Regions from separate parts of the Homo sapiens genome. Here region 2 is linked to region 1. Evidence: fine-mapped expression QTL. A gene starts in region 1. The other region holds a variant in brackets. All regions are shown on one strand. Distances are from middle to middle. Region 1 holds the start of WNT5B (Wnt family member 5B). Region 2 holds the start of LOC107984507 (a long non-coding RNA gene).

The links.
Region 2: its variant is fine-mapped to the expression of WNT5B in aorta (GTEx, PIP above 0.99). The same link has a PIP of 0.9 or more in tibial artery.

Annotation. Positions count from the first base shown.
Region 1 is chr12:1,620,375-1,632,330 of GRCh38, forward strand. WNT5B (Wnt family member 5B) reads left to right here and starts at 8,857. Exons shown (of 5, transcript NM_032642.3): 1 at 8,857-8,997; 2 at 10,924-11,060. The coding sequence starts at 10,981. RefSeq lists silencers at 9,775-9,964, 9,995-10,054, 10,009-10,303 and an enhancer at 10,485-10,584.
Region 2 is chr12:1,522,163-1,534,710 of GRCh38, forward strand. It overlaps LOC107984507 (a long non-coding RNA gene), which reads right to left and starts at 10,030. Exons shown (of 2, transcript NR_160736.1): 1 at 9,944-10,030; 2 at 5,561-9,609. RefSeq lists silencers at 7,933-8,182, 8,273-8,382 and enhancers at 11,396-11,595, 11,746-11,895. The variant A/G (reference allele first, on the strand shown) is at 7,364.

The DNA of each region.
Region 1 (11,956 bases):
CAGAAGATCCATGCATGTGGTTGCATGTAACTTGTAGTTTGTTTTCCTTCCTGCATAATAATTCTTTGTTGTAATATATCACAGTTAATTGTTTTGTCCATTCTATTGTTGATGGATATTGTTGCTTCTGGTCTGAGGCTATCAAGAGTGCTGCTATTCTTTTGTTGTTGTTTTTTTTTTTTGACATGGAGTCTCAGTTTGTCACACAGGCTGGAGTGCAATGGCGCGACCTTGGCTTACTGCAACCTCCGCCTCTTGGGTTCAAGTGATTCTCCTGCCTCAGGCTCCCAAGTAGCTGGGACTACAGGCACCCGCCACCACACCCAGCAAATTTTTTTTTTTTTTTTTTAGACGGAGTCTCGCTCTGTGGCCAGGCTGGGGTGCAATGGCACGACCTTGGCTCACTGCAACCTCCACCTCCCGGGTTCAAGCGATTCTCCTGCCTCAGCCTCCCAAGTAGCTGGGACTACAGGCATGCGCCACCACCCCTGGCTAATTTTTCTATTATTGGTAGAGACAGGTTTCACCATGTTGGCCAGGATAGTCTTGATCTCTTGACCTCGTAATCTGCCCGCCTCAGCCTCCCAAAGTGCTGGCATTACAGGTGTGAGCCACCGCGCCCCACCCTGTTATTTTGAAAGTTAGAGAACTGCCATGGGGAAATTCATTTATCCTTTCAAGAGATAAGAATGGGACATAAGATATTGCAATTTGTTAGAGAAAAAGAGGTCAATTAGCAGGCTCTTGTAGTAGCTCATAGTATGACAATAGGAATGTTGAGTAGGGAATATATTCAAAAAACACTATAGAGATACAATCAAGAGACCTTGGCAATTGATTTGACGTGGAAGGCAAAGAAGAGGGAGGAGTCACAAAGGATACCAAGATTTCAGGCCTGGATACAGGAAGAGAATTGGAAGACAGAGAACACGCATGATTGATATGAAGGTGTGTAATCAATCAGCATTTTAACTTCTATATTTGGCTCTCTAGGAAGATTCACTCAACCCACATTTTATGATCAAAAGGACAGTATCCAGGGTGACTGGTCCCCTATGTCTTTGACCCCATTCCTGCAGTGTTGCCCCCAGAAACTGGAAGCATGTCATGATGGGAGTTTTCCTGGGTAATTGATGCTGAATTATCAATGGGAATACCAAATCAGATTTTTTAAAAAGTTAATTTAACATTTATTATTTTTAGAGACCTCTGTCATCCAGGCTGGAGTGCAGTGGTACAATCATAGCTCACTGCAGCCTTGACCTCCTGTGATCCTCCCGCTTCAGCCTCCTAAGTAGCTAGGATTACAGACATGTGCCACCATATCCAGCTATTTTTTTTTTTTTTTTTGGTAGAGATGAGGCCTCACTATGTCGGCCAGGCTGGTCTCAAACTCCTGGCCTCGAGTGATCCTCCCATCCCGGCCTCCCAAAGTGCTGGGATTACAGATGTGAGCCACCATGCCTGGCCCCATATTAGATTTTGGAGGGACTACATAAATTTCACGAACAAGCAATTCTGAAAACAGTGGAAATTATTGAAGTCCTCCTTCATTGCACTATCTCTCCTCTTCTTCGAAAAGCACCTTGAAATTTTCTCTTTGACCAAACCACATCTTCATGTGAAATCCTTTCTGCTGTTTTCCTCCTGTTAAAAGCCCTCATATTCTTCAAGGCCCTACTCAAATCCCACATCCTGAGTACAGCTGCTCCCTTAGGCTCTTCTGACACTTCTTTTTTTTTTTTTTTTTTTTTGAGACGGAGTCTCGCTCTGTCGCCCAGGCTGGAGTGCAGTGGCGTGATCTCGGCTCACTGCAAGCTCCGCTTCCCGGGTTCACGCCATTCTCCTGCTTCAGCCTCCTGAGTCGCTGGGACTACAGGCGCCCGCCACCACGCCCGGCTAATTTTTTGTATTTTTAGTAGATGACACTTCTTATAGTGTACTTTTCTGGGCAGGTTTTCTGTTTTCCCCAGCTAGACCAATGCACCTTGGGGCACTCCCCAAGGTCTTACACATTTTTACATTATCTTATTAAGCAGTGCCAGCCTTTACTCTTAGAAGCTGAATGTTACTTATGTCTTTGAGGAAAAGACAGAGAGTTATGTCTGGGACCAGGAATCTCCAAAATCTCAATTAGCAGTGGATTCTCAGATAAGGGGAGGTACAGTCAAGCAGCTTCCTCACAGCAAATGGACCAAGTTGTATGGAAGTCGAAGGGACTCTCCTTGTCTTCATGAGAGGCTGGCCTTCGTGGCCTGCTTCCTCTTTCCCTGAGAGCCAGAGGAGGGCTTTTCTTTTCTTTCAGTCAACAAATATTTTTCTAGCAACTCCCACATACCCCTGTGTACTATCCTATCCACTGGGGAGAAAATGGTAAATAAGACCGTTTCCAGAGCATATGAGGGACAGAAACAAAAGCACAACAGATGAGCATGCCACACTATTCCATGTCACATTAAATGCTGTGGCTAAAACATGTGAGAAGCTAGAAATAGAATGATGCTGCTGGGGGCCTTCTTTGGCAGAGATGGTTAGAGAAGGCCTCTTGGAAGGTGTGGCCTCAATGACAAAGGAGCTTGCTCTGCACAGAGAGAGGAGAAACCATTCCCAGAAGTCGGCAAGGCACAGCGGGGAGAAACAGGATGGGTTTGGGTAAGGAGGTATCAGGAGTTTGGGGTTCTAAAGCACAGCATGAAATCCTAAAGAGGATGGAAAGGTTGGCGGGGCCAGATTCTGGAAGGCGTCATGTAATGGGGTGAGGAGTTATGACTCATCCTTTAGGAGATAGGAAACCTTTGAAGGGTTTTTTGTTGTTTTTTTTTTTTTTTTTTTTTTTTTTGAGACGGAGTCTCGCTCTTTAGCCCAGGCCGGACTGCAGTGGCACAGTCTCGGCTCACTACAAGCTCCGTCTCCCAGGTTCACACCATTCTCCTGCCTCAGCCTCCCGAGTAGCTGGGACTACAGGCGCCCACCACCACACCCAGCTAATTTTTTGTATTTTTAGTAGAGATGAGGTTTCACCGTGTTAGCCAGGATGGTCTCCATCTCCTGACCTCGTGATCCGCCCGCCTCGGCCTCCCAAAGTGCTGGGATTACAGGCTTGAGCCACCGCGCCCGGCCTCTTTGAAGGGTTTTAAGCAAAGAAGTCACATGGTCAAATCTAAGCTTTGAACAGAGCTCCTCGATCGCTATATCTACTGAAAGGCAAGACAGTTTTGTGCTATCGAAGTAAGAGCCTTTCTTGCTGAGGACATAGTTTCTTGGTGAGTTTCACTGTTAAGGCCAATCTAAAATGTCCCTCCACGTTCTCTCCAAACCTTATGTTTCTTCACGTGCACTCTGTACCTCACCTCTGCATCTTCCATGAGCCCCTCACACCAAACCAGGATCCACCCTTCCAGACCCATAGCTCTTGACCTGGTTTGTCTTTTCCATCCCAAAGTAAAACTAAGTACCAACTCTTTAAAACTATTATGTTTTAATTCCTCCAGCTTTAAGCAGCCTGGCCTGTTCTCAACCCACATATCATTTTGGCTAGGGGAGAAGTCTAGTTCTTTCCGCCCACAAGGCTGTGTGTGTATCTAAGTGTGTGTATTAATACTAGTAACTTTGCATGTTTTGTAAACCTTGCTTTTTGTGATATCTCCTGCATATCAGAATGTTGTTTTCTGACTTTCACACTATTCGCAGCCGTAGTAACAGGGCAATGGTGCAACGAAGAAAAGAAAGAGGCTGGGTACCGCGGCTCACGCCTGTAATCCCAGCACTTTGGGAGGCCGAGGCAGGTGGATCACCTGAGGTCAGGAGTTCAAGACCAGCCTGGCCAACATGATGAAACCCATCTCTACTAAAAATGCAAAAATTAGCCGGTCGTGGTGGCAGGCACCTGTAATCCCAGCTACTCGGGAGGCTGAGGCACAAGCATCACTTGAATCGGGAGGCGGAGGTTGCAGTGAGCTGAGATCATGCCACTTGCCTAGGCAACAAAGTGAGACTCTGTCTCAAAAAAAAAAAAAAAAAAAAAAAAGAGAAAGCAGAGAAGGTGTTATGCTCTAGTGACAGGGAGGACCTGTATTTGGGGAAGAGTAGAAAGATCTGGATTCCAAGCCAGGGTCAACCATTCAATTGCTGTATGAACAAGTACTTAATTTTAGTTTCCCTGTTTTCAAAGTGAGAATAATAATGGCATATGCCACAAATGTTGGCAGAGATTAAATGAGAAAAATAGATGTGAAACATTTAGTGCAGTGCACTAAGAGGTGCTCAATAAATGTTGATTAATACTAGCTATTGTCACTGGTTATCAATCAAAAGACATTTGTTACTGCTGAGTAAAACCATACTGGGCGCAAAGGGGCTCGCAGAGAAAGTAGAAAAGGTAAGTTTGAACCTTTAGGAAGCATTTGATCTACTAGAGAAGTAAGAAGTATATACTTCACCTGAGAAACAGCCCAAGGCAGCATAAGTGGGGTAGGGAGGTGCAGACCAGATACATGGATTCATAAGGGCCGAAGAGGTTGAGACCTCTTCGGTCTCAACCCATGAGAATGAGATTCTCATGGGGTGGGGTTAATCAAGCACAGTTTTATGGAGGGAGTGAATCTTGAGCCTGGATGTGAAAGTAGTTTAATATCTGGATTGCTGCAGAGCAGAGGAGAATGCTTCCTTGGGAAGAGGATCAGAATGAGGTCTTGGGGGAAAAGTGGGGTTTGTTCTAGGAGTAGAAGGACATTGGAAAAGGAGACTTCATGTTGGGAAATTCAGGAAAACAATGAGAGGTAAGATGAGGCCACATTGGAAATAAAGAACTGGGAACCACTATACGTTTTCAAATAGGGGAATATTATGATGTAAAATTAGTATTTTAGGGAAAACTGGTATTGTGTCTATGTGCACTTGTGAGTGAGACCACGAAGAACTACTCTGGTGTTCAGATGCCAGAAGGGTGAGTACTCACCTGGAAATTGGGAAGGAAATGAGTGAACCTGATGTACATTTTAGGAGGTATTTGTCTATTGTGCTGAGGTCCATAAACAGTCTTTCTCTACAGTACGAGAAATGAGTGGCCAAAGGGAGAGAAGCCACAGGACTCCAGCTAGCAAGGCCTGCTCCTCCTCCACCTGCCCCTCCCCTGTCCCATGGAAATCATCCAGTCTGAGGCCCCTCCTTCAACAGCAATGCAGCCAGGAGTTCACAAAGGGAAGCATTTCCTTTCCAAAGACTGCTAAGATGGTTTACCCTGTTATGCCAGGAATGTTAACAAAATTGCAAATGTACTTTTATTCTTTTGTTTTTTCTCTTTTTTTTGAGACGGAGTCTCACTTTGTCACACAGGCTGGAGTGCAGTGGTGCAATCTCGGCTCACTGCAAGCTCCACTTCCCAGGTTCAAGCGATTCTCCTGCCTCAGCCTCCCAAGTATCTGGAATTACAGGCACCCATCACCACGCCCAGCTAATTTTTGTATTTTTAGTAGAGATAGGTGTTGCCATGTTGGCCAGGCTGGTCTCAAACTCCTGACCTCAAGTGATCCACCTGCCTCAGCCTCCCGAAGCGCTAGGATTACAGGCATGAGCCACCGCACCCTGCCTGTTTTTTTTCTCTCTCTTTTTTTTTTTTTTTTTGAGGCAGGGTCTCAATCTGTCACCCACGCTGAAGTGCAATAGCACAATCACGACTCACTACAGCCTTGAACTCCTGGGCTCAAGCGATCCTCTGGCCTCAGCCTCCCAGGCACCACCATGCTCGGCTAACTTTAGATTTTTTTGTAGAGACAGGGTCTCACTGTGTTGCCTAGGCTGGTCTTGAACTCCTGGGCTCAAGCAAGCCTCCCACCTCAGCCTCTCAAAGTGCTGGGATTATAGGTGTGAGCTACTGCACCTGGCCACAAGTGTATTTTTTTTTTTTTGAGACAGAGTTTCACTCTTGTTGCCCAGGCTGGAGTGCAATGGCGCAGTCTCAGCTCACTGCAACCTCCACCTCCCGAGTTCAAGCAATTCTCCTGCCTCAGCCTCCCGAGTAGCTGGGATTACAGGTATGTGCCACCGTGCCTGGCTAATTTTGTATTTTTAGTAGAGACAGGGTTTCTCCATGTTGATCAGGCTGGTCTCGAACTCCTGACCTCGGGTAATCCACCTGCCTCGGCCTCGCAAAGTGCTGGGATTACAGGCGTGAGCCACTACTCCAGGCCAAGTGTATTTTTTTTTTTTTCAGACGGAGTCTCACTCTATCGCCCAGGCTGGAGTGCAGTGGCACGATCTTGACCCACTGCACGCTCCGCCTCCCAGGTTCACGCCATTCTCCTGCCTCAGCCTCCTGAGTAGCTGGGACTACAGGCGCCCGCCACCACACTGGGCTAATTTTTTTGTATTTTCAGTAGAGACGGGGTTTCACCGTGTTAGCCAGGATGGTCTCGATCTCCTGACCTCATGATCTGCCCGCCTCGGCCTCCCAAAGTGCTGGGGTTACAGTTGTGAGCCACTGCGCCCGGCCGCCAAATGTATTTTTAAATTACACATTCTATAGCTCCCCACTGGGTGACCAAGTAAGAGTGCTTTTCTTTTCTTTCAGTCAACAAATATTTTTCTAGCAACTCCCACATACCCCTGTGTACTATCCTATCCACTGGGGAGAAAAATGGTAAATAAGACCGTTTCCAGAGCATATGAGGGAAAGAAACAAAACCACAACAGATGAGCACGCCACACTATTCCATGGCACATTAAATGCTGCGGCTAAAACATGCAAGAAGCTAGAAGTAGAATAATGGCGATGGGGGCCTTCTCTGGGAGGGATGGTCAGGGAAGGCATCTTGGAAGGTGTGGCCTCAGTGACAAAGGAGGCCTGCTCAGCACCCTTGAAGAGGTCCCCACCTAGGCTCGTGGCTATTTCTGGACAGGTTTCTGGATGTGACGGTGCCTGTCTGAGGAGAGGGGCAGATGTGGGAGGTGGCTCCATTTCCTGCAGGAGTCTTGAGATGCTTGAGTCCCTGGGTGCTGGGGAAGTCAGTTCTAGATATCAGTGGGTTTGTGTGAATGGCTAATGACCTGAAATCAACCCCTCATCCTGTGGGGCAGAGATGTTGTTTCAGGCACTGCTCTGAAGTATGGTGGAAAGCACAGAGTTGCTTGGGGTCTCAGCTTTACCTGTCCCGGTCTCTCTTTTTGGTCTCTTAACTCTAGGCTGGATGGACATGGCCCCTTAAGGAAATGAAAGTGAGTGACTGAGTCCTAGCAGAAAAAGGAGGAGATCTTGGAGTTCCTGTCTTCCAACACGCACCTCTTTGGTTGTGATGGTGAAGTGGGACAGTGCCATCTCAGCAGGGACCTTGGATGTGCTCTAGAGGGGGTCTTGGAGGTGTAGCATCGTTACATCCCCTCCCACCATCCTGCCTACACAGTGGTTTTGGGGGCACAGATATTTCAGAGAGTAGTCTTCCCAAGAACCCTACATCAAGTATGCTACCACCCCTTCCCATTCTTGATTCTGGTCCCCTCTTTATTTTCCTCATAGTATTCACTGGACCTAACTTATGATACATTTGTTTGTTCACTGCCATGTCTCTGGCACTTAGAGCAGTAACTGGCACATATTAGGCACCCAGGGTGTAATTCATTTGATTAATGAATGTATTGAATGGCTGCATGGATGAATGAAGAGGAGGAACAGAGCAGATGTCTGACCAGCTCATTCTGGCTTCTGGAAGGATCCTGATTGGGAATTTTGCATCTTTCCCTCCCCACAGCCTCCTAGTCACTACTACTAAAGAATAGAGACCCTGACTCCCACTTTTTTTTTTTTTTGAGATGGAGTCTTGCTCTGTCACCCGGCTGGAGTGCAGTTGTGCTATCTTGGCTCACTGCAACCTCCACCTCCCAGGTTCAAGCGATTCTCCTGCCTCAGCCTCCCAAGTAGCTGCGACTGCAGGCATGTGCCACCACATCTGGCTAATTTTTATACTTTTTTATTACAGGTGAGCTTTCACCATGTTGGCCGGGCTGGTCTCGAACTCCTGACCTCAGGTGATCTGCCCACCTTGGCCCCCCGAAGAGCCCCGCATTCTTAACTACTGTGTTTGGTATGTTTGAATTGACACTTGCCTCTTAGGAAGGGGAATCTTTTTAGACCCTGGGGAAATCTGTAGTTATTGCAAAGGCCTTTTCCTGCCTGTTGGGCATTTACCAGATCTTTCTTCCTACACAAGGAGAGCCTCCCCTGGTTGAATCCTGCTATAAATCTCACTAGTGACCCACAAACAGGGGTCCCAATGTGACCTGCTCATTAACACAAAACCGTCAGCCCCCATACAGCTTCCTGCCTTCCCAGTCGGGTTGAGGCAAGAAATTTCCATTCTGCCCATGCTGATGAAACCAGTCGCCAGCATTTACCTTTCTAAGGGGTCCTTTCTCCTCCCACCCCAGCCCACCCCAGCACAAGAATGTAAGAGAGGGCAAACAGCTGCCTGGCTTCAGTTCTATGGCCACTCAAGAATTGGCTCGCATCTGTCTGCCAGGACAGAGAGCGTCCTGAGGGGGCTGGTGTGTGTGTTGTGTGTGTGTGTGTGCACGCGCGCGTGCATATGTGTGTATGGGGGAGTTCAGTTTCAGGTACCACACATCTGGAAGTCAGAGAAAGAAGCCACTGCACATGTTAGAGCCATTTTGGGGGGCAATTTTTAAAAAAAAAAACATTTTTAATGGGCTGAGAGCCGCCTCGTGGAAAGCCCGGGGCGGGGGATGGAGTAGAAACAGCTGCGGGAGTGATTCTTGTCTCCATATATGTTTATAAGGCACTGAGGGCGGGATTAGCAGCTCCTGGGAAGTCTGGCTCTAGTTACCGTGTCAGCCTGTCCTGGGGGCAGTCACAGCCACAGTGACCATTAGCAGGCACCCAGGCCTGTCTTTGGCTCGGAAACGGTGGCCCCCAATGTAGCCTAGTTTGAACCTAGGAACTGCAGGACCAGAGAGATTCCACTGGAGCCTGATGGACGGGTGACAGAGGTGAGAGGCACTGGTGTGAGGGACAAGTGTCACAGGCGGGGAGGAAGAACTCCGCTATCTGGTGGTGGAAATGTGTGAGGATCAAAGTCCCCAGGGAGAGTAGGTGTTGCGGGCGGCAGGGTGGTGGGCTGGGCACGGGCTGGGCATAGGCTGGGCAGGAGGCTTCGGGGCCGCGGGGAGGAGGCTGGAGAAGCAGGAGGGCACGGGCGGCCCTAGCTCTGCAACCCCGGGAAGGACTGGTAGGTGGAGTTAAGGATATTTGGACAAGGAAACGCTTTGAAGCTTTTCTCTCGTCCTCCCTACTCGGGACCTGGTCGCCTCCCCTCCATAAAACCATTAGCTCCTGGTGCCAGCCCTATCTCTGCTCCATCTCTCGTGGTTCCAGCCGGTGCATTCACAGACCTTCTGCCCCGGGGGACGAGGAGGATTTATGGGGGGAGAGGAGAGGGGGAGGGGCATCCTCCAGAGGAGGGGGGGTCTGAGGGGAGTCGGGCGTGGAAGCTGTTAGTCCCGGGCTGGGGGCCGGCTCACTTCCGAGCTGGCTCTGCATGACAAAGGGGAAGGAGCAAGTGTCTTCTTTGATCTGCCCCCTGCCGGCCCCACACACCTGCCTGTTGGTGCCCCCGCCCCAGCCGAGGCTTCGAGAAGGAAAATCAAAAGGGGGCTTGGGGAAGGGCTGTGTCCCAGCTCTCCTGGACCCTGCTCGGGCCACTGTCCTCTCCTGGCGGCCCCAGGACAAAAATACTTCCCGGGCTGATGACCCGAAGCACCCGCCGCCCCCTCCCGGGGAGCCTGGGGACGCCGACGCGCGAGAGTGGCGCAGTGAGCCGGGGCGCGCGGGGCTGCGCTCGTCAGGTCCGGGGCCCCGGGGAGGCCGCTGGGGGCGCGGGTCACGCCCAGACGGGGGCCCCGGAGGACCGCGGGGGAGCCGCAGGGGCCGTGTGTCCCGAGGCGCAGGCTCGCTCTAGCAGCACTGACCTGCTGCGGGTCCCAGGGCCTGGGGACAGGGGCTCTCGGGGGCGGATAGAGGAACAGGCGTGGGTTACAGCAGGCAGGAGGCCAAGAGGCGGGAGGCCCGGGAGCCAGCAGGGAAGGGCTGTGGCATCTGGAAGATGCGTCCTCAGCTCAGGCATTTGATGCCAGAGCTGCCGCCTGGCGTCGGCAGTGTCCCCGGTGCAGCTGCTGGGCAAGGTACTCGGTGCCGCCCTCGAGGACCACGGTGCCGGGAGGGGCAGGGGCCGCCTAGGGAGGCACCACCTCAGCCGCCAGAGCTTTCCGGGCGGGCGGTTCGCGGCGTGGCTTGTACATTTCTCAGAGAAGCTGCCTTGAGAAAGTGAAAAGTCCTTGATCTGTACGCAGGGGTTGGGACTTAGGAAACCCGCTGAGGGTGAGAAGGGCGCAGATGGAGAGGGGAGACTCCTCCCTGGGTGCAGGTAAATCCAATTCACCAAAATGTTTTAATCCTACAAAGGAGAGCCTGAGGGTCAGAGAAATAAGTCTCTGGGCTGGAATGAGAGGTAGGCACGTGGGGGAGTGGATAGGATGGGCCCCATTTCTTTGGATGTTCTGCAGCAAGGACAGGTATGCTTTACAACAGCCGAAGTGGCCTCCCGGCTGCCGAACGGAGGAACGCCGCAAGCTCCGCTCTTGAAATTACTTGTTTTCATTTCTCTTTGTGGTTTCTCAGCTCATTATTTCTTTGGAAATTAGGTCCTGTGCAGGGTTCCCACAGTTTGGGGTAAGAGACAGAAGTCCTAGGGTGGGAAGATGAGCAGTGGGAGGCGGAGGCTGGAAAGAGGCCGAGCTTCTTTGTGGGGAACACGCAGCACGTAAGCATCAGTGCAACTTTCTCCGCCTCACCCCGGCTCCTGGTCTGCCCTTATCCGCTGAGTTTCCACACTGACTCTCCATTTCTGTTTTCTCCAGGGAACCCTACTCTGGAAACTGTCAGTCCCAGGGCACTGGGGAGGGCTGAGGCCGACCATGCCCAGCCTGCTGCTGCTGTTCACGGCTGCTCTGCTGTCCAGCTGGGCTCAGCTTCTGACAGACGCCAACTCCTGGTGGTGAGTAAGAGGGGCTGAGGTCCTGCCTGCACAGCCGGAGGCCTCCTTCAGCGACTGAGATGAGGAGGAAGGGCACCGTGTGTCACGGTAGTACCTTGATTCCTGGGAGTACTAAGGGCCTCTTTTATCCCAGGAAAACTAAGAACGCTCTGTGTCTCTCTCAACCCTTATCTTTGTAAGGGTTCCCTGAGGATAAAGGTTCCGTTCATTTGATTTTTTTCTCTAATCCTGTCCACATTCCTTTTCCTTGGACCTTCCCTCATGCCCATGAATTGTTAGAAATTGCTCTTGGGTCAACAAGAATATCAATACTTGGTAGTTTTTTGTTCCTTTGTTTTGTGTGTTTTGCTGGTAGGATATAGAATTCCTCTTTTATAAGTCTGAAGGCCAGATGAGGGGTTCACAGCACCATGGGTGGCTGGCTTTCTTCTTATGTTTTAAGGGCTGTTGTCATTGCCAAGTTGACAGGGAAATGGCAGGCGATCACCACCTATTTTGCATGGTCTCTGCCACTAGCATTTTTACTCAGATAGCAAATCTGCAGCCTTCTCATCTAACACTCTATATGGCTGGTAGATGATGAGCAAAAGGGAGAGCCTCTGAACTGGTGGAGAGTGGATGAGGGGAAGCTCAAAGTGAGACATGGCAGTGAAAACAAGTAGACTAGATCGTGATGTATGTAAAGTGATTGGATTTTAAAGGCCCAAAGGGAGTACCACGCAAAGGATTGATTGCTTTCCATGGCTTATCATGTACTTGGGCTGCACTGAACTAGTCACTCCTACTCATTGAATGAGGCCTGTGCTCTCCTGTTGAGGTTTGGCTCTTTTTGCCCTCTATTAAAATGAAGAGCTGCTCCCCACCCCTCGTCTTCTTATCTGCCTGACCCCCATTCT
Region 2 (12,548 bases), 98 kb before region 1:
TCAAAAAAAAAAAAAAAAAACCACGAAAATTAGCTGGTTGTGGTGGCGCACACCTGTGATCATAGCTACTCAGGAGGCTGAGGCAAGAGAATCACTTGAACCCAGGAGGTGGAGGCTGCAGTGAGCAAAGATTGTGCCACTGCACTCCAGCCTGGGCAACAGAGCGAGATTGTGTCTCAAAAAAATAAATTAAAAAAATAAAAATATTGTCAATCTGAGGTTGGTTGACTCTGTGAACGTGGGACCCACAAATAGGGAGGGCCAATTGTTTAAATACATAGAGTGAAAAATATCAGAGAGAAAGGAAGAGTGCCAGGCTAAATGCTTTAAGCTTAACATTTGAATATTTAAAAACTTCAATTGTTAAACAATTGTCCATTACAATGATGCATTTTCACTTATTACTGTTTGTCTCTGGTGATACAATCATTTTTTCCTGAAGCCAAACAAGTGCTTCAGATAAGACATTCTAGCAAAGATCACAGCTCATAGGGTGGAATTCAATAGTTTATAAATGCTTTTTTTTTTTCAAGACAGAGTTTCACTCTTGTTGCCCAGGCTGGAGTGCAGTGGTGCTATCTCAGCTCACCACAACCTCTGCCCCCCAGTTCAAGTGATTCTCCTGCCTCAGCCTCTCGAGTAGCTGGGATTACAGGAAGGCGCCACCACGCCCGGCTAATTTTGTATTTTTAGTAGAGGCAGGGTTTCTCCATGTTGGTCAGGCTGGTCTCGAACTCCTGACCTCAGGTGATCCGCCAGCCTCGGCCTCTCAAAGTGCTGGGATTACAGGTGTGAGCCACTGCGCCCGGCCTATAAATGCTTTTGATAATAATCGTGGGTCAGGAGACAAACCATTACTTCCTTGAGATGTCTGGATTACCTGTGGGTTTCCTTTATCATCCTTGTTAGTACCATTTAGCAAAAGCTAACATGATGGCGGAACCTAGGACCCAGTCTCAGCTCAGGGTGTGCACACCTGGTCCCTGGCAAGACCAAGCAGGAAGAAGCCAGGATGGCGGAAGACCTCAAAGACTCCAGTTCTCGCCAGCCCCTCTGCCGCCCTCCACTGCAATGCGGTCCCAGGGAACTTAAGTGATGTGTTTCCTGGGCCTGGGGCAGGGGGTGCCACGGCTCTTCTGGGCTACCCTGTACCTGTCAGCAAGCCTCTCTCCTCCCGAAAGCTCACTGGACGCTGGGCCTTTGGGATCCCTGGCTGAGTTCAGGATCAGAATGACCTGTGGAGCCTTAGAAGTCACAGACCAGAGGCACAGCCTTGGAAACTGGACTTTAAACATTCTTTCCCAGGAGATTCCGATAAACCAGGGACTCAACCCTCACTGCACTAGGAAGCCCCTCCAGGAGCTGTCTGTGAGTGAACAACTTTGAGACACCCTCTGGTCACCTGGCACAGGTGTGCCTCCCACCCTGGGCAGCCACGTGGGAGGGGTCAGCCTCCCCTGACAGCTGGAGAGGCCACTTTAGTGTCCTTGTGGGAGCTTGTGGCCATCCTTTCTCCCTTTCCTGGCTGGCCTCTCCTTCGGTATCTGCATTTTCTGTCGTCCTAACAGTCTCTGGAGAGGAAGGAAGAAGGGGCTGCTCTCGCTCTGGAATGCCAGCCCCCTGCTGAGTTCCTGCCGCCCTCTCTTCCTTGCTCCCAGCCCCCTCTACCAACAGGAACGGCCAATGCTCCTGGCTTTGCCTCTCTCTGCCTTTGTGCGTGTCTTACTGTGGCTCTCTTATTGTGGAGCACACATCACTCGACCCGAGGGCTCCCTGCTGCACCCTCCAGTCTGCGCTCTCCTCTTCCTAAACTTGTGGGCCCTGTCTACACAGGTTGCTCACTCCGCCATCTCTCTCGCCTTGCCCTCTGGCCTTCGTATTTATCAGTTCACTTTTTGAAACTGCACCTCCAGCCACCCTGACCTCTAACGCTCCTTACATTCCCTGTTTCTTGCCGTCAACACTTGAATGCCCCCTTGACCTTAAAAGTAAGTGTCTTGGAGTCAGATTCACTGTCTTCCTCTCAAACCTCCATCTTTCTCCATTTCCCCTTTGACTCCATCATAGCTTTGTTTACTCTTGGGGAGTATTTAGACCCATGCTTTTTACAGGTGAGGATCCAAGAAGGGGAGTGACCTTCCCCAGGGGAAACCAGCTCCTTAGTAAGAGAGAGGGAAGGAGAAGCTCGGCCACCACCCTTAGTCCTGATGGCCTTGAGCCGCCAGGGGCTCTGGCACCAGACGCATGTGGCCTGGGCATCTGATGTTCATTTCATTTCCATTTGCTTGTGTCCTGGCCCCACTATAAGAACAAAGCTCCTTGAGGGCAGGCACCCTGTCTCCGTTTCCTCTGAAATGTCCCTCAGTATAGAAAGCATTAAAGGGCTTCAGTCAAAGTTGAGATGAGGGAAAAAGGAGGCATATGGGGATGTTAGAGTCTCCAAAGGGAAAATGGTATTTCTTGTCAATCATAATTCCAAAGAGTGCCTTGTTTTTTGGTCAAGCATTTGAGTAGTTCATTAACAGGATCACATTCATTAGTTTTTCCCATTTGCTCGCCATTCTTTTGTTTGTTTGCTTGTTTTTAAGAGATGGGGGGGGGGGGTCTCACTTTGTTGCCCAGGCTGGTCTCGAACTCCTGGCCTCAAGCAATCCTCCCACCTCAGTTTCTCAAAGTGCTGGGATTACAGGCGTGAGCCACCGCACCCGGCCCCCATTTTCTCTTTATGGGACCTTGACGAGTGGTACTGATGAAATGATGAAACTCTTCCCATTGCAATTGGCTAGAGTCTCCAGATTTTGCCAGTTTTTAGTGACACCTTCAACTGCTTCATTCTAGGTATTAGTAAAGCAGTAATTCATTAAAGGGACAATTTAGGATTCTGTCTTCTCTTGGGAGGAGTTCAAGGATAGAGCATCCCATTAGAGTGGACAACAGAAAATGAGGTCACGTCTATTCAATCATAATAATGCAATTATTAATACTGATTGAACATATACTACGTGTAATAAATAGTACTGGATTCCTTTTTTCTGTCTGTTTTAGACAGGGTCTCACTCTATCGCCCAGGCTGCTGGAGTGCAGTGGTGTATAATCACGGCTCGCTGCAGCCTCGACCTCCCGAGCTCAAGTAATCCGCTTGCCTCACCCTCCTGAGCAGCTGGGACTACAGGTGCACACCAAAACACCCACCTAATTTTTGTGTTTTTTGTAGAGTCAGGGTTTTGCCATGTTGCCTAGGTTGTTCTGGAACTCCTGAGGTCAAGTGATCTGCCCGCCTCAGCCTCCCAAAGTGCTGGGATTACAGGCGTGAACCACCATGCCCAGCCAGTACTTGGATTCTTTATGTGTGTTCTTCGACTTCTCACATTGCCATAGATAGGTGATCTTACCACTGCTACCTTTTAGATGAGAAAACCGAGGCTTAGAGAGATGAGTGTCTTGCTCAAGATCACACAGGTGTTGAGTCTGAAGTTCACCTCTGAGGACTGACCTGGCGCCCTGCTCAGCAACCATGCTGTCTTCTCCCTGGAGGGGCACTAACTTCTCTTTTGGGGAGAGGTGGCTAGAGGAGAGCCTTCCAAGTGAGATGAGTAAGGCTGTCATCATTCTGATGAATCTTCATTAAGATAAAACTAGAGGGCCACTGTATTTGTCCGTTTTCACACTGCTGATAAAGACATACCTGAGCCTGGGCAATTTACAAAAGAAAGAGGTTTAATTGGACTTACGCTTCCACATGGCTAGGGAGGCCTCACTGTCATGGCAGAAGGCACAGAGGAGCAAAGTCACATATTTCGTGGTTGGCAGCAGGCAAAAAGAGAGCTTGTGCCGAAAAACTTCCCCTTATAATAACCATCAGATCTCATGGGACTTACTATCAGGAGAACAGCACCGGAAAGACCTGCCCCATGATTTAATTACCTCCCACCGGGTCCCTCCCACAACACGTGCGAATTCAAGACGAAATTTGGTTGGGACACAGCCAAACCATATCAGCCACTCACAGTGGTGCACACCTGTAATCCCAGCACTTTGGGAGGTCGAAGTGAGAGAATCGCTTGAGCTCAGGGGTTTGAGACCAGCCTGGGAAACATAGCAAAACCCTGTCTCTACAAAAAATATGAACATTAGCCAGCTATGGTGGCATGTGCCTGTAGTCCCAGCTACTCAGGAGGCTGAGGTGGGAGGATCGCTTGAGCATGGGAGGTTGAGGCTGCAGTCAGCCATGATCATGCCACGGCACTCCAGCCTGGGTGACAGAGTAAGACTCTGTCTCAAAAAAAAAAAAAAAAAAAAAAAAGAAAAGCAGTTTATAAACTGGTAAGCTCTATGCACATATGAGGTATTAAGAACGGTCTTCTGCTTTTATAAAAATTCCTTTATGCTGCTGACATCCTGGTATGAACTTTTTCCTCTACAGGTCCACTGCAGAGCCAGATTAGAACTCATGATAGCAGCTTCCTTCTTACCAACCCTGCTGCCTTCAGCACTTAGAAATCCCCCGATCCAGCTGTCCCAAATTGTCTTGGCTATTGTGAGTCTGTGGCGGTAATCTATGGATAGTGTCTGGATATTTGGGTCAGATTCTGCCAGTTTTTAAAAAGCCCTCTTTCTTAGCAAAACCGTGACTTCTATGTTACGTCCAGACAACGAGCAGAAACTGAGCACTGAACAACACAGTACCACAGGCAATGGGGTCAAGTGCCTGTGAAATAGCTGTCGGGATAAAAGGTTATTATTAGCTCTGCCTCTCGCTCTTGTTCTGGGCTTTGAAGGCTCATCAGTTCCCCCAAGAAATTTTCTGTGCGTCCTTTTTTTTTTTTTTTTTTTTGAGACGGAGTCTGGCTCTGTCGCCCAGGCTGGAGTGCAGTGGCCCGATCTCGGCTCACTGCAACCTCCGCCTCTCGGGTTCACACCATTTTCCCGCCTCAGCCTCCCGAGTAGCTGGGACTACAGGTGCCCTCCACCACGCCCGGCTAATTTTTTATACTTTTTACTAGAGACGGGGTTTCACCGTGTTAGGCAGGATGGTCTCAATCTCCTGACCTCATGATCCGCCCGCCTCGGCCTCCCAAAGTGCTGGGATCGCAGGCGTGAGCCACCGCGCCAGGCCTTCTGTGCATCTTAAAGAACACCTTTGAAAGGTGCCAGAGAAGCAGACTGGGATGGAGTAGAGGGTTGCCCTGCAACAGGGGTACTTTCTTCCTGCACCCAGAGGCGGCTGGACAGCAGTGTTCTGAAGCTCCTCCCCCTGGCACTGGGGGTGGTGAAACGGAGCAGTCCACCGAAGAGCATGCCTGAGGACCAGCACTCAGCCCCACATGCACCTGGCAGGAAAGCCACTGAGATCCCAGCCACGCAGGAGTCTCAGCCTCCTCTCTGACTAGTTCTGATAGGGTTTTCGTTAGACTTTCTGGCTGGGAAGGGACCTCTGAGTGTGGATGGGGGCCTGCGAGGGCATGACCAGGAGTGGGGAGCAGTGTCCTCAATAAAAAGAGCAGTGATCATTACATATTTGCATAGGGCCAAATATTCTTTCTTTTCTCTTTTTTTCTTCTATTTCCTTCCTTACTTTCTTGTGTCCTTTCTTTTTAATCACAAATGCCAAATTGGAATATGCCTTGTTTGGCAGAGAAGGCAAGAGACCCCACCCAACAGTCACAGACAAAACATGGGTGAGATTTGTCTGCATTCCCATCAGTGCCTGCCTTCAGAGCTGGAGGTAGCTGCCCCAGCAGTCCAGTGACTCAAGCTATGGGGTGCTTACCACTTCCCTTGGGGAATCTGGCCCACGTCTCTGCTGTCTCCTCATTCAAACGTTTTCCCAGCTACTCAGCCACAAGCTCCTTTCCCGGGGGCACTGCAGCTTCCCTCCCTGTGCCACAAGTTTTGACTCATCTTGGACAGAGATGGTGGGGGTAGGGGACTTACAGAGCATTCAGCTGGGGTTGCTGTCGTCTGTCACTTGCTCTCATCCTAGACTGTCAGCTCAGGGCCAAGCAAAGTCATCCCTTGTTGCTTCTTCTAGGCTTCAAATTAGAGGTCGGCCTCTCCACACCTCATTCTTCAGACTGTAAACTTCCTGAAGGTGGGAACTGGTCTCATTCATCTCTGGGTGTTTAGGGCTCAACAAATGAAGCGAATCTTCAGTTTCTCCCATGTTGCATTCTGGAGTAATCAGGGTCTGGGGAACAAGACTTCCCCCCGACCTCCCACGAAGACCCTAACTCCATGGCCGGGCACAGTGGCTCACGCCTGTAATCCCAGCACTTTGGGAGGCCGAGGCAGGTGAATCGCTTGAGGTCAGGAGTTCGAGATCAGCCTGGCCAACATGGTGAAACCCCGTCTCTACTACGGTGGCGCACACCTGTAATCCCAGCTGCTTGGGAGGTTGAGGCAGGAGAATCAGTTGAACCCGGGAGAAGGAGGTTGCAGTGAGACGAGATTGTGCCACCACACTCCGGCCTGGTCAACAAGAGCAAAACTCTGTCTCAAAAAAAAAAAAAAAAAAAAAAGACCCTAACACTAGAACTGATGTTTTATTCTGAGGAAGAGAGAAACTGAGCCTGCTTGAAATTTGGCAAAGCGGATTCAAAGCTTTTTTGCTTGCTTTAGGCCAACTCTCCTCATATCATCTGTCCCCAAGATAAAGCCTTGAACTAGCTTCCCTCCAGCAGCAGGCAGGCTCCCCACAACAATTATAGGCCATGCATTTATGGTTGCTGGACCTGGTCTCATAAACCCCATTCATTCACTCCGAGGTGAGAAAAGTCACAGTGCACCTGAGGTGAGAAAAGTCACGGTGCACCTCCGGCCCAAGCCAGCACAGTTCCAAGGAAACCTTGCCCTCTAATTAGTGGGGTATTTGCTACAACAGCTCTTACCTGTTGTAAAATCCAGAGGACAATAGCTCCTTATTGCCTGCCCAGTGTGGTGGGTTCCTGGTCCCATCCATTCCCTGACCCTCCCTGCTGCCCCTTCCCCCACTGAAAGGGGGAGGCTGTCACCTTGTTTGGTTACTAATTTTAAAAAGGCAAAGCCTTTGATTATTACTATTGTATTTTCCCTCCCCTCACTGTACTGCATTCGAAGGCAATTTCTTTAGCAGGGCGACCTCCTCCTCAGGGAAGAGACTGGGTTTTTCAGAATGTAAAAGCAAAGGGGCTGGAGGGCAGGCCTGGGATCCTACTGGCTGCTCTCGGTTGGTCCCTGTTACCTGGGTCTGGAGCAGGGACCAGCAGCTCCTGCCTCCACTGGGACCTTAGCTCACCCACTTCACCTCCTTGGACACCCTCTTGGGCAGCTCACCCAGAGGTGCTATGAGGTTACCTACAAAAGGACATGGGACTTCCAGAAAAGC[A/G]TTTAAACTTGGATCTGAACTAAGGCCGAGCCCTGGACTCTAGTGACCTTCTCAAGCTATTAGCCCCTGCAGTGACTATGGGTTGGTCGTCAGACTTTCCTGTGCCTCATTTTCTCCATAAAACATCAGGAGAATTATTTAGTCCTATATCCATGACGAAAGTATTGAGAGAACACGTTTGCTCCTTGAAACCTTTCTGCCTCATTTTTCCCAAACCCAGGGATCTTTCTGAGCTGGGCTCTGTAGGGAAGGGCCCAGGACTGCGAGGGGGATGACCTGGGTTTGCGAAGCGGCAAAGTAGTTCCCGGGTCACTCTACTTCCTTGGGGGATTCAAAGGAGGACGCGTAGCAAGAAAGCGGAGGACATAACTCTCTTCCCCTCTCAGAGCCTCGGGCCCCGCAGACGCCGAGGTGGGCGCTCGTGCCAGGATCGCGGGGCGCGGGTACGGGCTCCTTGGGCGCCCCGAGGGGGCTGCTGGCCGGGGTAAGAGCCGCGGTTTCTTCGGAGGATCGGGTCGAGTTCCAGGAGAAGGGGGCAGCAGGCGTGCGGCGCCGGGAGAAGGGGGCCGGGCGGCGGAGACTCCCCGTCCGCACCCCCGCGGCGAGGCCCCCGGGCCGCTCTGCTTAGGGGCCGAGGGAGCCGGGCGGGAGGCAGGTGCGGAGGTCGCGGTCCCAGCGCCTGGGAGGAGCCCTCGGGAGGGTGTCGCGGCCCGGCTGGTGGGCAGGAGCGAGCCGGGGCCGGCGCGGCTGTCGGGGGCGGGGAGGAGGCGCGGGAGGCGGGGCGGAGGCGGCGGCGCCCCCAGGATCCACTCGCCCAGCGCCGGGCCCTGCACTCCGAGCCGCGGCCGCCACCCGCCCCGCAGCCAACTTGGGCCGAAACTTCCCCGGGTCCCGCGCTCCGGAGCAGGGCGCGCAGCCCGGCGAGATCGACGGCGGCCTCCCGAGCCCGCGCCTCGGGCCCAGGGCCTCCCTCCGGATCGGCCGCAGGCTGCGCGCCCCCGACCGTCCCCGCCCGCTGAGTTCGGGGGTCCCCGGCGCGGAGCAGGGAGCCCTCCGGGCGGCAGGAGGGCGCGCAGACTCCGAGCGCCGGGGCTGCCTGGCCGGGCTCCGGTGGACACCTCGGAGGCTGCCCCAGCATCGGGGGGGGGGCCCGAGACGCCTCGGCGGGACCCCGGGAGCCGAGCACGCCCGCCCGCGCCGCCAGCCCCGCGCCCCGGCCGCGGATGAAGAGTCGGAGGCGGCGGCCCGAGCGGCCCGCGCGCTGAGAGGAGCGGGCAGGGTCTGCCCCGGGCCCCGCCGGCCGCCCCCTGCGCCCCCGCGGGCCGCGCCTCGCCCGCCGACCCAGCGCAGCCGGGCGCAGGAAGAGCCGGGCCGGGCCGAGCGGCGCCCGGAGCCCGCGGGCCTGACACGCGGCGGGACATGCAGGTAAGCGCCGGCCCTCGCCCCCGGGGACGGCCCCGCCGCCGCCGCCGCCGCCCCGGCTGCCGAACCTCGCGCGGCTCCTCCGCCTTCCCGGCCCCGCGGCCGCGCTGGGTGTCCGCCGGGTGGGTCTGCGCGCCGCGGGCGTCGGGTCGGGGCGGGCCGGGGTCAGGTCGGGGGAAGGGAGTCGCCCCGGGCCGGGGCGGCGAACAAAGCTGGGGACCGCCGGGCCCTCGCGCGGGCAGGCATAGGAGGCTCCGGGGTCGGCGGCGCAGGCGGGGCGGCCTCTGAGCTTCGCGCTCACTCTCCCGGGTCTGGTCGGGCCCAGCCCCGACCCTCCGCCGAGGTCTGCGCCGGCATCGAGGACCCCATCTGGGTTACTTTACCCGCCGGACGCGGGTGGGAGCCTGCGTTTCTGCCCGGACCGCGCAGGTAGAGCCCGAGCGCCGCTCGGCTTTGTGCTTCTCCGGTCGCTCCGGCGCTCCACGTCCCCGCCGTGGGAGAGGCGGGACGAGACCTCCTCCTTCACTTTCTTGGAGCCTCGGTGGACGCGTAGCCCGCGCTCCAGTCGGAGCCGAACCCCCGGGTATTTGCTGCAGACCGCTGGGAGAGGCAGTTCGGTTTGCGGGGAGCCTGCCCGGCCCTGTTTTACAGGGAGGGAAACTGAGGTGGCCCCGGCCCTGCGTTGGTTACTCAGCTGAAGGGGTGTGTGTGTGTCCGGTGTCCCCTCCACTTCACCCGGGCCCTTCTTCACTGCTTTTGCCACCTGGCCACGTTGGCAACAGCTTCCAGTTGCTACTCCCCTGGGCAGAGGTTCAGCCTGGTACCTGGAGGAGAAAAACTAGGGATCGTGGAATCAACCCCCCAGACTGCTCCAGGGGCCCCGGAATGTGCCCAGTCACCAGAGCTGCGATGGGACGTCTGTGCCCGTGCCGTCAGTGTGGAGCCGAAAACCCTGGCTCGGCAGGGCAGGGGCAGCCGCTAGCCAGCCACCAGCACTCGTCCAGGCACACGGGGGAAGCCTAGGGAGCCCCCTCCTGTGGCTGGCCCCTAAGGCAACGGAGAGCCCAGGCAGCAGCGGGCACGCCCTCAGAAGGCCTAAGGACCCTTTCCTGCACCCAGCCTCTCCTGCCATCCGATTAACCGGCAGAATTCACTTACGCAAAGGCAAGACTCCCCATCTCAGGCACAGACGAGCGGATGCCAGACCTGGAGCTTGCAGCCGCACCCCTGCCTAGGCTCACACACACAGGTCCTGGCAAACACACCGACCTATTAGAGGTGGAAGACTGAGGGGTGGTTTTCCTCCATCTCAAAATAGTGTCTGTTCTCGCTTTGACACACAAGATTCGTGGTTATAAATAGCAAGAAGGAGGAGGTGTGTCTCCTTGGAAGGATGGCAGTGCTGAAAGAGACCTCTTAGGCACCCTTGTGAGAGGAGTGATGGAGCTGGCGTCTTCATGGTGATGACAAGTCCAGCAGTCCAAGGGAAGGGTCACAATTAAAACCAGGGCTTTTTACTAACAGATGCAGGTGGCGCGGACAACAGGGCAGGACGTGAAGGGAGTAAAGGAACCTAAAGTGACAATGGATGGGTCAATACCCAAAGGCAGTCAGGAGAGACATCTCCCCTTCCCTTTCTTTCTCTTCTTAAAGACAGTCAGGCCAAGGGCGTGTGACACTCTGTGGGATCTGCCTGCCAGGGGAGCAGGAGCCAGGCTCGGAGGAGCTGGCTGGTCTTTTTCCACCCATGGATTTCATACTTTCCCAGGCTCTGATATCTTATGTATTTGAATATGAATAGGTGATTGAGCGTGTGTGTCTGTGTGTTTCTCCAAGGTATCTGAAACCGGTCCCCTCTTTAGTTCATTTGGTGATTGTAATATCACCAGGGGTTTCTTATTGACTTGAAACTACCCTTTTCTAAAATTTTTTCTGTCCAAAAAGCATAAGTTAAAGGGATATTGCCAAAATTGCTGGGAGCCATATGCTGCGAAAAGAAAAAATCTGGAATTCTTCTTCCCTTGTGTATTTCACCCTCTGACTCTAGGGGCAGCTGAAAGATTTTTTGTTTGCTCTTCTTCAAGGTCAAGAAAGGCAGAGGACTAGGCTGGTCTGTTCTAATTTTTAATTCTAGGATGGTTCTGCTGCTTTCTGGATTGCCGCAGCCTGGCTTCTCTAGCATGGAGGGAAGTTTTTACGTGTGGTGATAGTCCTTGTCTTCTCTGAAATAGAAACCAGTCAGTCCAAAAAAGCTCTCGTGTCAGCGAGAGCTTTTTCTCTCTGGCTCCTTTTCAAACCGCCTGCCATTTATCTCCTTCATCTTCTAACCAGGTCTTCAGAGCCCATCTTTGCTCCAGCGCTAGTCCTGGATGCAGTCCTCAGAGTGTGTGGTCGTGGTGGTAGTTACTGGTTGTTGGGTAACTCCATCAGGTCTCTGAAGACACACAACAGCAGTAGATGTAAAAGCCCTCTGGGCAATGAGAGCATGTGGGAGCTCCACTTACGGGCAGCCTTGGCTGGTTTCTGTTGAGCGTCTTCACCGTTATCTACGAGTCCAGAAACATCCAGCAGAGGGATTGTGCATCGATATTGCCATCAAGATGAAAAGACATGCTCATTTTAAATCTGAGCCACCCTTTAAAGTAAAACTAACCTTCTGTCCATCTCTGGGGCGCAGCCTGTGTGCTCCCCCAAGCAGCATGCTGGAGGAACCCTGAAAACGGATCCGCTGTTTGGTACAGTTCTGGCTGGACTGTTCCCTTCAGCGAGAAATGCCCCAACTCTGGAGAGCAGGTGACTGCACAGCCCCTACCAGGCCCTCTCCACCCCTGGCCCGGCTCTGTTTACCTGGCTAAATTTAAACCTCCGCCCCCTCCATCCCAGTTTGAGCCACTGGCTTGCGGTCTCGCCACTGGGCTGGCTGCTGCGGCAGCATTTCCTGACTTCTTCGCCCCTGTGGTTGCAGTGTGGTCTCTTTGTGCTGCATGAGTCCTCTTCTAGGCTTTCTAAAGTTGGTCTCTCTCCCCGCTGCTTCTCCACCCATGTGGCTTTCTTCCCATCTCTTTCCTCCTGGGTGAGTTGGAACCTGGTTCGGTACTGGGGGAAGATGCTCTCCCCTAACCCTTCCAGATACTGTGCACGGAGATCACAGGAAGCCTAGACTCAAGCTGTCATTTAAGGTCCTCAGGGGGCTGTGCTGACTGTAATCATTACCCAGCCTGGCTGCCGGGCTGTCGGATCCCCTTTGAGTAAGCACGTAGGGTGCTGGCAGCAGTGCAGCCCTTAAAGGGACAGGGGCATTCTCTAAGGTCTTTGGCACCCCAAACCTCCAGCTCCCCTAAGAAACCAACCCACCTGGATGTCCTGTCCTTTGCATCACTGTCTTTTCTTGAGGTTTTGCTGGGGAGGGTGTTTGAGTGGGTTGGGGTGCACACGGTAGCTTCTCTCTGGATCTCAGTAATATTTTCTTTTCTTTCCTTTTTTTTTTTTTTTTTTTTTTTTTTAACAGGGTCTTTCTCTGCTGCTCAGGCTAGAGTGCAGTGGTATGATAATGGCTCACTGCAGCCTCGACCTCCTGGGCTCAAGTGATCCTCTCACCTCAGTCTCCCCAGTGGCTGGGATTGTAGGAGCCGTGCACCACCATGCCTGGCTAATTTTGTTCTTTTTTAATTTTTTGTATAAATTGGGTTTCACTATGTTGCCCAGGCTGGTCTTGAATTCCTGGGCTTAAGTGATTCTCCTGCCTCAGCCTCCCAAAGTGCTG